Homo sapiens: one gene and its partner. The protein of the gene in region 1 interacts with the protein of each later gene in a biochemical or structural test. Each region holds a gene or a part of one and is shown in the gene's direction. Other genes may lie near its edges.

Region 1 (7,985 bases):
TTATTTCCTGTGAACTAGTTAGTAGTTAATCTAAAGACTTGATCAGTAATCGGGCGTGGTAATCCTAGCTACTCAGGAGGCTAAGGCAGGAGAATCGCTTGAACCTGGGAGGTGGAGGTTGCAGTAAGCGGAGATCCTGCCACTGCACTACAGCCTGGGTGACAGAGTGAGACTCTGTCTCAGAAAAAAAAAAAACGACTTAATCAGGTGGGGCGCAGTAATCCCCATACTTTGGGAGGCGGCGACAGGCTGATCCCGGATCACTTGAGGTCAGGAGTTCAAAACTAGCCTGGCCAACATGGTGAAACCCCGTCTCTACTAAAAATTAGCAGGGCGTCGTGATGGGCACCTGTAATCCCAGCTACTCGTGAGGCTGAGGCAGGAGACTCCGTTGAACTTGGAGGCGGAGGTTGCAGTGAGCCAAGATTGCGCCATTCACTCCAGCCTGGGTGAGAGTCTTTCTCAAAAAAAAAAGACTTGATCAGATTCTAGTTTCATACTTTGACAATACTCATAGATAGTACTATGTACTTTCTGTTGCATTACATTAAGAGGCACATACTGTCTTTGTTTTTTGAGAAGGAGTCTTGCACTTGTTTTTTTTGTTGTTGTTGTTTTATTTTGTTTTTTTTGGAACAGAGTCTTGCTCTTGTCACCCAGGCTGGAGTGCCTGGCTTGCTGCAGCCTCTGCCTCCTGGTTCAAGCGATTCTGCTGCCCCAGCCTCCCGAAGCTGGGATTACAGGCGTCCACCACCACACCCGGCTAATTTTTGTATTTTTAGTAGAGACAGGGTTTGCCATGTTGGCCAGGCTGGTCTCAAACTCCTGACCCCAGGTGATCCACCCGCCTCGGCCTCCCAAAGTGTTGGGATTACAGGCGTGAGCCACTGACCCTGGCTTCTTTTTTTTTTTTTAAATGTTAAGATTGACCAGTGGATTCGTGTTGTCTGATGCCTGATCTCTCAGTTGTGAAGTTCCCCATATGTTATTCATGTAGTAGTTTTTGTAGTAGTCATTTAGTTTTTGTCATTGATCTATTATTTCATTCTGGGTTTCCTTTTCTCCTTTCTTTTTGGGAAATCTTTCAACATATAAGTAAATTGCAGTTTTTTTTTTTTAAGTGACTGCCTGTTAAATGTCAAATGCTTTAAGTTTGGTACCTGGGTCAGGGTGCAGTGGCTCATGCTTGTAATCCTAGCACTTTGAGAGACTGAGGCGGGTGGATCCCTTGAGCCCAGGAGTACAAGACTAGCCTGGGAAAGATGGCGAAACCCAGTCTCTACCAAAAAAAATAAAAAAACATTAGCTGGGCATGGTGATGCGCACCTGTGGTCCCAGCTACTTGGGAGGCTGAGGTGGGAGGATGGCTTGAGGTTGCAGTGAGCTGAGATCATGCCACTGCACTCCAGCCTGGGTAACAGAACCAGACCCTGTCTCAAAAAAAAAAAAAAAGTTTGGTACCGGGAAGCAAAATTCAGTGGTTGAGGTTAGTTTAGGACATAAGCATTACTTGACTATGGGGATTTTAACTGAGTCATTTATGTGAATCAGTAAAAAGAACTTAAGATGGGTGTCACTTTTAGATGATGCTTTGCAATTATTAGATTAGTTGAATGTGAATACAGTGTTTGACTTGGAGAATTGGACCTCTTGTACTTTATACAAATATGATTAGTTCTAATTTAAATTGTTAGTTCTTTTAGAGATTTTGTTGACTTTTTGGTACAGTTAATTTTGGATTTAGGAAATTGCTCTGGAATTTTTTTTTTTTTTTTGAGATGGAGTTTCCCTCTTGTCGCCCAGGCTGGAGTGCAATGGTGCGATCTTGGCTCACTGCAACCTCCGCCTCCTGGATTCAAGTGATTCTCCTGCCTCAGCCTCTAGTAGCTGGGATTACAGGCACACACCACAACGCCCATCTAATTTTTATATTTTTAGTAGAGATGGGGTTTCACCATGTTGGCCAGGCTGGTCTCGATCTCTTGACCTCATGCTCTGGATTTTTTTAACCTGTTTTTCTGGGACTGTGTATTTAGTTTTCTGTCCACGTAGGGGTTTTAGAACCCTGTTAAAGGAATTTTGGTGTGTGGAGGTAAGCAGTTTTTTGAAGTTGATAAGTCAAGACTTGACTCTTGACATATTTTTGCCAGGTCACAGTCCTTTTTTTTTTTTTTTTTTGAGACTGAGTTTTGCTCTTTTGCCCAGGCTTGCGGTGGCGCGATGTCGGCTCACTGCAAACTGTGCCTTCCAGTTTAAAGTGATTCTCCTGCCTCAGCCTCTCGAGTAGCTGGGATTACAGGTGCCTGCCACCATGCCTGACTAATTTTTGTACTTTTAGTAGAGACAGGGTTTCCCCATGTTGGCCAGGCTGGTCTTGAACTCCTGACCTCAAGTGATCCACCTCAGCCTCCCAAAGTGCTGGGATTACAGGCGTGAGCCACCGCACAGTCTTTTATGAGCATCACTGTTATCTTCTCAATCTGTAAAAGGCAAATGATAATCTTTTCCCTACTTGACCTAAGGAGCAATATTAGGATTAAAGTCTGTGAAACACTGTTTACCCCTCTTACTATCATATAAACATGTCAATAACATAACACCTTAACTATCCAGCTGCCAGACTTCTGGAAACCTTAACCTTTGGAAACAAAGCTCCTTGTGGAAAGTGAGCAAAAAGCTTTTGAGCTAAGTCATCAATAATATAGCAACCCTGAGACAGAGTTCACTGATTGAAAAATGTGTGCAAAGTGAAATTTAACAGGCTTAGTTTTCTGCTTTCTGCTGGCAGTTTGGTAGTATGCTGGAGATAACAGGAGGAAAGTTACCTGAGAAGCAGACTATTACTGTTAGGAGGACACTGGAGAAACATAATTAGACTAGAAAGATAGGGCTATACATTAGCCTTTACTATATGAAATGATAGTCTTCCTAGTCTAATTTATCATACCCAGTACCCGGAAGATACTCTGGACTAAGAGAAGTGTGTAATAGGCTTTAGGCACATTTTTGCATTAGCTAATGTGTCGGCATTTAGCTGTGGCCATTGCTCTGAATGCTTTGTGTGTGTGTGTGTGTGTGTGTGTGTGTATTTATTTATTTTTGAGACGAAGTCTTGCTCGGTCATCCAGGCTGAAGTGCAGTGGCGTGATCTTGGCTCACTGCAACCTCTGCCTCCCGGGTTCAAGTGATTCTCCTGCCTCAGCCTCCTGAGTAGCTGGGATTACAGGCATGTGCTACCATGCCCGGCTAATTTTTGTATTTTTGGTAGAGACGGAGTTTCACCATGTTGGTCAGGCTGGTCTCGAACTCCTGACCTCGTGATCTGCCCGCCTTGGCCTCCCAAAGTGCTGGGATTACAGGCATGAGCCACCTCGCCCGACACTTTACATATATTAATCCCGCAGGAAAATTCTGTGATGTCAATACTGTTTTCTCCATTATTTATATATAAAGAGCAGAGAATCAAAAATCACTTGCCAACGGTCACAAGGCTAATAAGTGGTAGAGTAGGTGTTGACCTGCCAAACTACAGAAACTTGGAGAAGGCTTTTGATATTCAGGGACATGTATATTTGTAAGACCTCAGATGACAGGTGTTATGTCAAGTTAAAAAAGTTAAGGTTTTTTTTAAAAAAGTTATAACTTAAAAAGTTTGCTGTACTTGATTTTCTTCAAATGATAATGAAACCTAATAGAATTTCCTTTACTATCAAATTTCTGTGTATTAACCTTAGGACAGATAATTTACAACTCAGTTGTCTGGTTTTTGTTTTTTTTTTTTTGAGACAAGTGTCTCTCTCTGTCAATTAGGCTAGAGTTCAGTGGTGCGATCTTGGCTCATTGCAGACTCCGCCTCCCGGGTTCAAGCCATTCTCCTGCTGCAGCTTCCCAAGTAGCTGAGGTTACAGGTTGCGCCACCACATTGGGCTACTTTTTGTGTTTTTATTTTTATTTTTTAAAAATTTGTGTTTTTACTGGAGACAGAGTTTTGGCATGTTGCTCAGGCTGGCCTTGAACTCCTGGTCTCAAGTGATCTACCTGCCTTGGCCTCCTAAAGTACTGGGATTACACGCATTAGTCTGTATGCATTTTATTTTATTTTTATTTTTATATTTTTTGAGATGGAGTCTTGCTCTGTCACCCAGGCTGGAGTGCAGTGGCACAATCTCAGCTCCCTGCAGCCTCTGCCTCCCGGGTTCAAGTGATTCTCCTCTGTCAGCCTCCCGAGTAGCTAGGATTACAGGCACCCGCCACCATGCCCAGCTAATATTTGTATTTTTAGCAGAGACAGGGTTTCACCATGTTGACCAGGCTGGTCTCGAACTCCTGACCTCAAGTGATCCACCCACCTTGGCCCCCCAAAGTGCTGGGATTACAAGCGTGAGCCACCGCCCGGTCATGCATTTTATTTTGACAAGTGCAGAGACACATACTCTGGGGCAATCCTTAGTAGATTAGAAAAGTCATTAAATAGATTTCTGGATGGGTGTAACTCTTTGTTAAAAGCAGCAGGAAAAGACTGGGCATGGTGGCTCTTGCCTGTAATCCCAGTGCTTTGGGAGGCTGAGGCGGGAGGATTGCTTGAAGCTAGGAGTTTGAGACCAGCCTGGCCAACGTAGATAACCCCACCTCTACTAAAAATATAAAAATCAGCTGGACGTGATGGTGTGCGCCTGTAATCCCAGCTCCTTGTGAGACTGGGGCATGAGAATTGGTTGAATCCAGGAGATGGAGGTTGCAGTGACTCCAGATTGCGCCACTGCACCCCAGCCTGGGTGACAAAACAAGACTCTGTCTCAAAAAAAAAAAAAAATATATATATATATATATATATATATATTATATATATACACATATATATAATATATATATATATAAATGAAATAAAACCTGTAGAAACCTATCATGAATGTATCAACAAAAGTATCAACACCCTGCTCACTGATAGATAATGGGTTGATATGGCTTACTCGCAGTGTGAACGTCCAAGCGTCCAAGTTTTCTGTTTTGTTTTTTTTGGATAGTGTTTTGCTCTGTTGCCCATGTCAGAGTGCAGTGACATCATCATGGCTTACTGTATTCCCAACCTCCTAGGCTCAAGTGATCCTGCCACTTCAGCCTCCCAAGTACCTAAAATGACAGGCCCATACCACCAACCTGGCTAATTAAAAAATTTTTTTGACTGGGTGCGGTGGTTAATGCCTGTAATCCCAGCACTTTGGAAGGCTGAGGCGGGTGGATCACCAGGTCAAGAGATCGAGACCATCCTGGCCAACATGGTGAAACCCCATCTCTACTAAAAATACAAAAATTAGCCGGGCGTGGTGGCACGCACCTGTAGTCCCAGCTACTCGGGAGGCTGAGGCAGGTGAATCTCTTGAACCCAGGAGGTGGAGGTTGCAGTGAGCTGAGATCACGCCATTGCACTCCAGCCTGGGTGACAGAGCGAGACTTCGTCTCAAAAAAATTTTTTTTTTTGTTTTTGCAAAGATGGGTTTCTCACTCTGTTGCCCAGGTTGATCTTGAACTCCTGGGCTTAAGTGGTCCTCTTGCCTTGGCCTCCCAAAGTGTTGGGGTTACAGGCATAAGCCACTGCACCTGGCCTTAAGTTTTTAAATATATAGAACTTTTCTACCAATTGTTACAGAATTATAGATGCTTTTCAATAATATCTTTAAAACTCTCATAGGGTTCGTATCTAAAATGTCAGTAATATCTAATTATTAATTAGTTGAGTAGTTGGCAGCCAGTTTAGAGTAAGAGTGGAACTCTGTGACATAATAAAATTATGTATATGTGTGTGTGTGTGTATATATATATATATATATATATATTTTTTTTTTTTAAAGAATGGAACTAGAGAGTAGGGTCTGTAAGAGTGTCAGAAAGTCAAATGTATTGAACTCTGATAGGGGAAGTCAGAGAGTGCCAGCTTATTTCAACATTTTGCTTTAGGCTAGTCTTATTTGTCATTGTCTGTGTCACCCTTGGCAGGCATGTTGGTCACCCTTGGCAGGCATGTTGACCCATGTACAAATTTATCACATAACTCTGAATTTCTAGGTGTTGGTTTTTGTTTTTGTTTTTGTTTTTGTTTTTGTTTTTTTTTTTTGAGAGAGAGTCTCACTCTGTTGCCCAGGCTGGAGTGCAATGGTGCATCTTGGCTCACTGCAAGCTCTGCCTCTTGGGTTCACGCCATCCTCCTGCCTCAGCCTCCCGAGTAGCTGGGACTACAGGCGCCCACCACCACGCCCGGCTGATTTTTTGTATTTTTTTAGTAGAGACGTGGTTTCACCATATCGGTCAGACTGGTCTCAATCTCCTGACCTCGTGATCCGCCCGCCTCGGCCTCCCAAAGTGCTGGGATTATAGGCATGAGCCACTGCGCCCAGCCAATTTCTAGGTCTTTAGTGTCATTTAACTTTCTTTTCTTGAGCACATGAACTTTATTAGTAGGCAATTTCTTTTAATTTGATTACCGTTCTTTTGAATATGGGTCACATTTTCCTGTCCATTACCATATCTAGTCATTTTGGAGTGTATATTGGACATTGGGATTGTTACTTAGTAGAGGCTCTGGGTTACCTTTTGTTTTTTTTTTTTTTTTTTTTTTGATACGGGGTCTTGTTCTGTTGCCCAGGCTGGAGTGCAGTGGCGTGATCTCAGCTCACTGCAAGCTCTGTCCCCCAGATTCAAGCAATTCTTCTGCCTCAGCCTCCTGAGTAGCCGGGATTACAGGCGCGTGACACCACACCCGGCTAATTTTTGTGTTTTTAGTAGGGATGGGGTTTCACCATGTTGGTCAGGCTGGTCTCAAACTTCTGACCTTGCGATCCGCCTGCCTTGGCCTCCCAAAGTGCTGGGATTATAGGTGTGAGCCACCACGCCCAGCCTCTGGGTTCTCTTTTAATCCTGTGCTCTGTGTGTGTGTGTGTTGTTGTTGTTGTTATGTACTGAATGTGATCTCCCTCGCTCCCCGAGAATTCATATCTTGAAGCCCTAACCTCCAGTGTGATGGTATTTGGAGATGAGAACTTTGGGAGATGGAGGTAATCAGGGGTAGATGAGGTCATGAGGGTGGGGCCCTGGGTCTGATAGGATTTATGTCCTTAGAAGAAGAGATACCAGAGAGCTTATTCACTCCCTCTTCACTGTGTGAAGACACAGTGAGGAGGCAGCTGTCTGAGAGCCTTCATCAGACACTGGCCCTCCTGGAATCTTGATCCTGAACTTTCAGTCTCCAGAACTGTGAGAAAATTTGTTTCAGTTGTTATCCCACCAAGTCTGTGTGGTATTGGTTGTGGCATCCCAAGCCGACTAAGACAGTTGTTGATTAACTTCATTGTACTCAAACTCCAAACTGTCTCTCCTACAATGGGCAGCAGGAATATCTGCTCAGTTATTTTATTTAGCTGGGCTGCCTGGAGGCTGCCCCATGTGTACGATCTTCATGGGTCAGTGAGAGATTTGTGTAGAATTAATATTAAGTATTTAGGATTCCTTTTCTCAACTCTTGCGGAAACTTTCCCATCACTTTCCAGCTGCTGTTTTCACCTTGAACTGGGTATTCTGGTTCTATAAGTCAGTAAGACTGTGGGATTTCTATTGATATTTTGCTGTTCACTAGGCATAGGATGGGGACTGTTTTCAGGCAAAAAGCCTTAAAAATTGGGAAACTCACTCAATACCATTCCTTTATTCTAAGTATAGACTCCGTCTGGTTTCTGCTTGCTTTTGGTTGCTCTTCAGTGTCCTCAAGTCTTTTTTATCTTTTTATTAAAAAAAAAATTTAAACGATAGAGATGAGGTCTCGCTGTGTTGACCAGGCTGGTCTCAAACTCCTGGCCTCAAGCAGTCCTCCCATCTTGGCCTCCCAAAGTGCTAGGATTACAGGTGTGAGCCACTGTGTCTAGCCTCTTTTTTATCTTTTGTCCAGAATTTATGGTGGTTATCTGAGGGATGGTTAGCCTAATAGGACCTACTTC
Region 2 (7,000 bases), on another chromosome or scaffold:
GTGTGCTGAGACCCTGGGCTGGAGTCCTCTGCTGACAAAAGAATGGAGCCCTGGCAGTGCTGCTGCTGTGGCTTACTGAATCCCACTCTTAGAGCTGGGAAGAGTGGGGTAGTGGAAAGAACGTGAGCTTTGGAAACAGGCCGAGTTCAAATCCTGACCATGCTACTTAATAGCTTTGTGACCTTAGGCAAGTCACATAGCCTCACAGCTTGGATGTGCTTATGTATAATATGGGAATCAAGATCCTACCCTGTGGGGTTAGATGCATGAACTGAAAGAAATAAGGTATGTACATGGCCTAATATGTAGTGGCTGTATATATATATATATATATATATATATATATATATATATATTTTTTTTTTTTTTTTTTTTTTTTTTTTTTGAGACAGAGTCTTGCTCTGTCGCCCAGGCTAGAGTGCAATGGCGTGACCTCAGCTTGCTGCAACCTCTTCCTCCTGGGTTCAAGCAATTCTCCTGCCTCAGCCTCCCGAGTAGCTGGGATTACAGGTGCCCACCACCACACCCCACTAGTTTTTATATCTGTAGTTGAGATGAGGTTTCACCATGTTGGCCAGGCTGATCTCGAACTCCTGACCTCAGGTGATCTGCCCATCTCGGCCTCCCACAGTGCTGAGATTACAGGTGTGAGCCACCGTGCCCGGCTCATATATGGTTTTTGTTTGTTTGTTTGTTTTTTGAGATGAGTCTCACTCTCGCCCAGGCTAGAGTGCAGTGGCACAATCTCAGCTCACTGCAACCTCTGCCCCCAAGGTTTAAGCGATTCTTCTGCCTCAGTCTCCCGAGTAGCTGGGATTACAGGTGCCTGCCACCATACTTGGCTAATTTTTGTATTTTTAGTAGAGATGGGATTTTGCCATGTTGACCACGCTGGTCTGGAACTTCTGACCTCAAGCGATCCACCGGCCTCGACCTCCCAGAGTGCTAGGATTACAGGCGTGAGCCACCACACCCAGCACCCCCTCGCCCACTTTTTTTTTTTTTTTCGAGACAGGGTCTCACTCTGTCACCCAGGCTGGAGTGCAGTGGCACTATCTTGTCTCACTGCAACCTCCGCCTCCTGGGTTCAAGCGGTTCTCATGCCTCAACCTCCCGAATAGCTGGGATTACAGGTGCCCGCCACCATGCGTGGCTAATTTTTTTGTATTTTTAGTAGAGACAGGGTTTCACTATGTTGGCCAGGCTGGTCTCGAGCTCCTGACCTCAGGTGATCTACCCGCCTCAGCCTCCCAAAGTGTTAGGATTACAGGCGTGAGCCACCGCACCTGGCACCCCCCCCCCTTTTTTTTTAATATAAATGATCAGTCTTAACTCCCTAGGTTATCAGGTTGAGGGGGTGGGGATGAGGCTGGGGGACAGATTGTTTTCCTGGCTTCTAGCTCGGTGTTCTTTCTGCCTCTGTGCACAACAAGGTATGCGTGTATTGTGGTTGTGGACTGTGGTTGTGGACTGCCTATTCACAAGTGGCTATGAGGCCCATCTGCTGATGCTTTTGGATGCACTTGGTGATGAACTTCTGCTGAGTAACCTCTTCACAGGGCCCCGGCTGGGACAGAAGGTGTGCAGACTGTGGTTTCAGTTCAAACACATGGTTTCCTGTGGTCTGGGAGATAGCCAAAGGGTGATACAGGAAGAGCACTGGACTTGGGTGACTGGAGACCTTACTTCCAACTCTGGCTCTGGGTGAGGGGAGGTTTGATTTCCTTTTTGTTTTTTGATTTCGTTTTGAAGCAGGGTCTTGCTCTGTTGCCCAGGCTATAGTGCAGTAGCATGATCATAGCTCACTGCAGCCTCAAATTCCTGGGCTCAAGCAATTCTCTGCCTCAGCCTCCTGAGTAGCCAGGATTACAAGTGCACACTGCTACACCTGGCTAATTTTTGTGTTTTTTGTAGGGATGGGATCTTGCTGTATTGCCTAGGCTAGTCTCAAACCCCTGGGCTCAAGCAACCCTCCTGCCTCAGCCTCTCAGAGTGCTGGGGTTACAGGTGTGAAATACTGCACCTGGCCAGGTTTGATTTCCGAGGAGGTGCCGTATCTCCCTACAAAGATATCATACCAGTTTATGTGCCCACAAGTTATGTATGGGAGTGCCTGAAAAACTGAAAAATTAAGTAATTTTATTTATTTATTTATTTCTTTATTTGAGATGGGGTCTCACTCTGTTGCCCAGGCTGGAGTACAGTGGCATGATCTTGGCTCACTGCAGCCTCTGCCTCCTGGGTTCAAGCAATATTCCTACCTCAGCCTACCGAGTAGCCAGGATTACAGGGGTGCACCACCACACCCGGCTAGTTTTTGCATTTTTAGTAGAGATGGGGTTTCACCACGTTGGCCAGGCTGGTCTCGAACTTCCGACCTCAGGCGATCCACCCGCCTTGGCCTCCCAAAGTGCTGGGATTATAGGCATGAGCCACCACACCCAGCAAAATCAAGTAATTTTAATTTCCTAGGCACTCTTTTTTTTGTTTTTTGAGACTGAGTCTCGCTCTGTTGCCCAGGCTGGAGTGCAGTGGTGTGATCTCGGCTCACTGCAACCTCCGCCTCCTGGGTTCAAGCGATTCTCCTGCCTCAGCTTCCCAAGTAGCTGGGATTACAGGCGCCTGCCACCACGCCCAGCTAATTTTTGCATTTTTAATAGAAATGGGGTTTCACCATGTTGGCCAGGCTGGTCTCGAACTGCTGACCTCAGGTGATCCGCCCGCCTTGGCCTCCCAGAGTGCTGGGATTACAGGCGTGAGCCACCGCACCTGGCCAGCACTCTGGTACCTTATTGATGGGAGTGTATATTGTACAACCCTCTTTTTAGAAGGTCGTTTGGGGCTGGGCATGGTGGCTCACATCTGTAATCCCAGCACTTTGGGAGGCCAATGGGGGAGGATTGCTTGAGCCCAGGAGTTCGAGATCAGCCTGGGCAACACAGGGAGAGTCTGTCTCTGGGTTACATTAAACAACAACAACAACAACAAAAGAAAGTTGTTTGGCAGTATCTGTCAAAGCATACTCCTTCCGACTATATTCTAGGAATTCATCTCACAGATAAACTCAGATGTGCTGAAGGAAATGTCTGAGAATCTTCATTGCGGCATTGACATAGAAGATGACAGGAAACAAGTTGTGCTATTAAAAAGGTCAACTAAATCATGGTACAGCTGTACAGTGGAAGTCCTTGCATCCCTTTGAAAAATGAGGTCAATCCATATGTACTGATAGGGTGTGCTCTCCAAGCTATGTTGTAAGTGAAAAACACCAGACGCAAAGTAGTGTAAATGGTGCTTCGTTTTGTGTAAAACATGGTATGTAAACTCTGCTCTGTGCATGCAGTATTTCTGGAAAGATACTGAGACCCTGGTAATGGTGGTTGCCTAGGGTCTAGGCAACAGGAGCAGGGAGTGAGCAGTACATTTCACTCAATACTTTTTTTTTTTTTTTTGAGATGGAGTCTCGCTCTGTTGCCCAGGCTGGAGTGGCATGATCGATCTCGGCTCACTGCAACCTCCACCTCCTGGGTTCATGTGATTCTCCTGCCTCAGCCTCCTGAGTAGCTGGGATTACAGGTGTGCGCCACTATGCCCAGCTAATTTTTTTGTATTTTTAGTAGAGACGGGGTTTCACCATGTTGCCCAGGTTGGTCCCCATCTCCTGACTTCAAGTGATCCACCTGCTTCTTCTTCCCAAAGTGCTGGGATTACAGGCATGAGCCAGTGTGCCCGGCCATATTGTCCCTAAAGAATAAAAAATTCAGCTATTTCTTATTTTTCTTAACTATAAAAATAAGGGGTCCAGCTGGCTAATCTGTAGGTCTCAACTTTAAAGTGCATTGCTTTAGGTTCCATATTGCATATTGAATGCCTACCTTTTACAAGGTAAGAGGGAAGGGTCTTTGTGCTTGAAACCTTTGGGTCCTGTTTTCTTCCCATGATGTCACATCACTAGAGTAACCCCTTAAACAGAAGTCCTTTCTGATCTACTTCCTCATATTCTGGGAAATGGTAGATGATTGATTTTTCTTTGCTGTATGAGAAGAGAAAGCCTGCATGTGTGTCTGGAAAGCGTTTTGGGATACCCTCTTGCAAGGTTTCCATAATTCGCTTGGCTCCAAATCATAAGCTGTCCTGTCCTGGGGAGCCCACCCCAACCTGAAGCCCAACCCAGGCCCTCACATACCTGGCTTTCTTTCTTTTCTTTTCTTTTCTTTTCTTTTTTTGGAGACAGAGTCTCACTCTGTTGCCCAGGCTGGAGTGCAGTGGCGTGATCTTAGCTCACTGCAACCTCCACCTCCCAGGTTCAAGCGATTCTCCTGCCTCAGCCTCCCGAGTAGCTGGGATTATAGGCACCTGTCACCACGCCTGGCTAATTTTTGTATTTTTAGTAGAGGCAGGGTTTCACCATGTTGGCCAGGCTGGTCTCGAACTCCTGACCTCAGGTGATCCACCTGGCTTGGCCTCCCGAAGTGGTGGGATTACAGGCGTGAGCCACCGCACCCGGCCACCTGGCCTTCTTTTTTAACTTGGGGTCATTGCATCCACTATTATGCCCCTTCCCACTCTGTCCCCAGTTTCCCCTAAGACATCTGGCCTGTGGTTTTTATGTATAACAACACTGGAAAAGCCCAAATTCTTGAGAAGATGTGATCAGAGGGGTGTTTTGAATGGGAGGGCCCTACCCCCCTTCTCAAGGATGGCTGTCTTTCGCCTTGGATGGTGTGGGCCCTGGGAGGAGCTGCCGGCGCTGCTGTTGTGCCCGATTGACTCCTTTCCTGAGTGAAGTCTGGAAGACCCCATCAGGGTCCTGAGGTCCTGCAAGGCAGCCTCCGGGCCTCCTGGGGGAATGGTGTGAGTCACACATGAGCACACACTATGAGACTGGCTCTAAAATGGGACCGCCACTGCATGGGCGGGCGGCCTGTATCTGTACCCAGCTCCCTGTCCCTTGTGCTTAGATGGCACCAAATATTTGGGAGGCAGGAGGGGAGCTGCCCACTCTGATGCATGTCTCTTTAAAAAGTAACCTAGGCTTCTGTTGGAATTACTCAGGTTCCCATTCCCACGATTAGCTTCTCGAGCCTGAGATGATTCAGCACCCGGGCAGGTGTCCCCAGAGAAGGCCCTTAGCTAGCCCGCCAAGCGCTGGAGCAGCTGGGAGTCCCTCAGTGGCTGTCTGCATCTCTAGCCCAGGACCCTCCTGCTGTGGCTGGAAGGAGCCTTTGCAGGGCCTTCCGGAAGGGTGTGGCTTCCTGCCGTGCAGGTTGGGCTAAGGCCTGTAGTGGGGTTACAGGTAGCTGATCTTCCCCACCCTCGAGTCACTTCCTTGGTACTTCTCAGAGGCCCTTACCATCCTTATGGTATGTCCCAGAGGAGAAAAGGGGCTTCTCAGGGAGGTCCCTCTCTTGCCTTCTTAGGCCAAGATGATGTCTTTCTGTACAACTTTTTATTTTTCTGAGACGGAGTCTCGCTCTGTCACCCAGGCTGGAGTGCAGTGGCGCGATCTCAGCTCACTGCACGCTCCACCTCCCGGGTTCACGCCATTCTCCTGCCTCAGCCTCCCAAGTAGCTGGGACTACAGGCACCCGCCACCACGCCCGGCTAATTTTTTTTGTATTTTCAGTAGAGACGGGGTTTCACCGTGTTAGCCAGGATGGTCTCCATCTCCTGACCTCATGATCCACCCGCCTCGGCCTCCCGAAGTGCTGGGATTACAGGCGTGAGCCACCACGCCTGGCCTCTCTGTACAATTTTTAATGTGTTGGGGGAGCTCGAAGCTAATCTCTGAGTAGGTTGCCACTCACCAAAAGGACGTGGGCCTTAGAAAGAAGAGCCTTTCTTCTTGCATTTTAACTCTAATTTGAAATCATCCCCTGCTTAAAAGAAAAATCAGCAACAACAATGAAAACCCTCCCTACTGGATTTAGAATTATAGAATGCCTGGCTGGAAGAGATGTTGGGAATAATTAAAATAACATTTCTTTTTTTTTTTCCTAATTAGAGAAAAAGCGATTTGCTTAAGCTCATTCTGTGAGTCGGTAGAAAACCTTGGCCCCTGGTTTCGCTCATACCCAGTGCCTTTCCAAATCAGGAGGCTTCATTTAAGCGTGTTTTCTAAATGGTGACTCTCTTTTTTTTTGATGTTTATGCCCTGTTTAGCCAAGCAACACATACTGAGCTCCTTTAATCTTTCCTTAAGAGTCTATTCTTCTACTCCCTTCGTCTTTTTTGTTGTTTTTTGTTGGGGGGCACTAGGGTTAAGGAATGGGGTGGGAAGTGTTTTGGGTTTCTCTGAACTTCTTCCAGCTGGACGTGACCACTTGGGCTGAAAGTTCCCACAGCTCGAAAAATCAATATTTCACATGGGGTGGTGCCAGGCAGCAGGGTGGGCCATTCAGAAAGCCACACTGCTGCCCACTGTCCTCAGCCAGCCCTGATTTCTAGTAACTTTAGGTCACTTAATGTCTCCGGTGATAATTTGTTATATTTTCAACACAAAATGCACGGGAGAAGGAACAAAATAAAGTTTTGGGATCAGGCAGAGCTAGGAGCAGACCCCCCGCCTTTTCTCCTGCTGCTCGCCTTAGTTTTCCCATCTGCACCGTGGAGAAGCCTCTTTCTTAGCATTATAAATGGATGTGAAGTGGTCTGTTCCTCCTCTTCCTCCCCTTCATCTCTCTTCTTTTTTTATGAGACAGCGTCTTGCTCTGTTGCCCAGGCTGGAATGTGGTGGCGCGATAGCAACTCACTACAGCCTCGGCCTCCGTCTCAAGCATTCTTCCCACCTCAGCCTCCTAAGTAGCTGGGATCACAGGTGTGCACCACCAGGCCTGGCTAATTTTTTTTTTTTTTTGTAGAGACAGGGTTTTGCCATGTTGCCCAGGCTTGTCTCAAACTCCTGAGCTCAAGCAATCTACCTGCCTTGGCCTCCCAAAGTGCTAGGATTACAGGTGTGAGCCACCTCGTCCAGCTTCTCCTTTTCTTCATAGTAACAATA

What was found. The genes of interacting proteins can lie anywhere in the genome.
Region 2: of the proteins of TRPM7 (region 1) and MYH9, one has a biochemical effect on the other in vitro, tested with the Homo sapiens proteins (one study listed by IntAct).

The regions. Positions count from the first base shown.
Region 1 is NC_000015.10:50,676,367-50,684,351, reverse strand, and holds part of TRPM7 (transient receptor potential cation channel subfamily M member 7), read left to right. Parts: intron 1-7,985. UniProt on the Homo sapiens protein: Bifunctional protein that combines an ion channel with an intrinsic kinase domain, enabling it to modulate cellular functions either by conducting ions through the pore or by phosphorylating downstream proteins via its kinase domain.
Region 2 is NC_000022.11:36,377,968-36,384,967, reverse strand, and holds part of MYH9 (myosin-9), read left to right. Parts: intron 1-7,000. UniProt on the Homo sapiens protein: Cellular myosin that appears to play a role in cytokinesis, cell shape, and specialized functions such as secretion and capping. Required for cortical actin clearance prior to oocyte exocytosis. Promotes cell motility in conjunction with S100A4.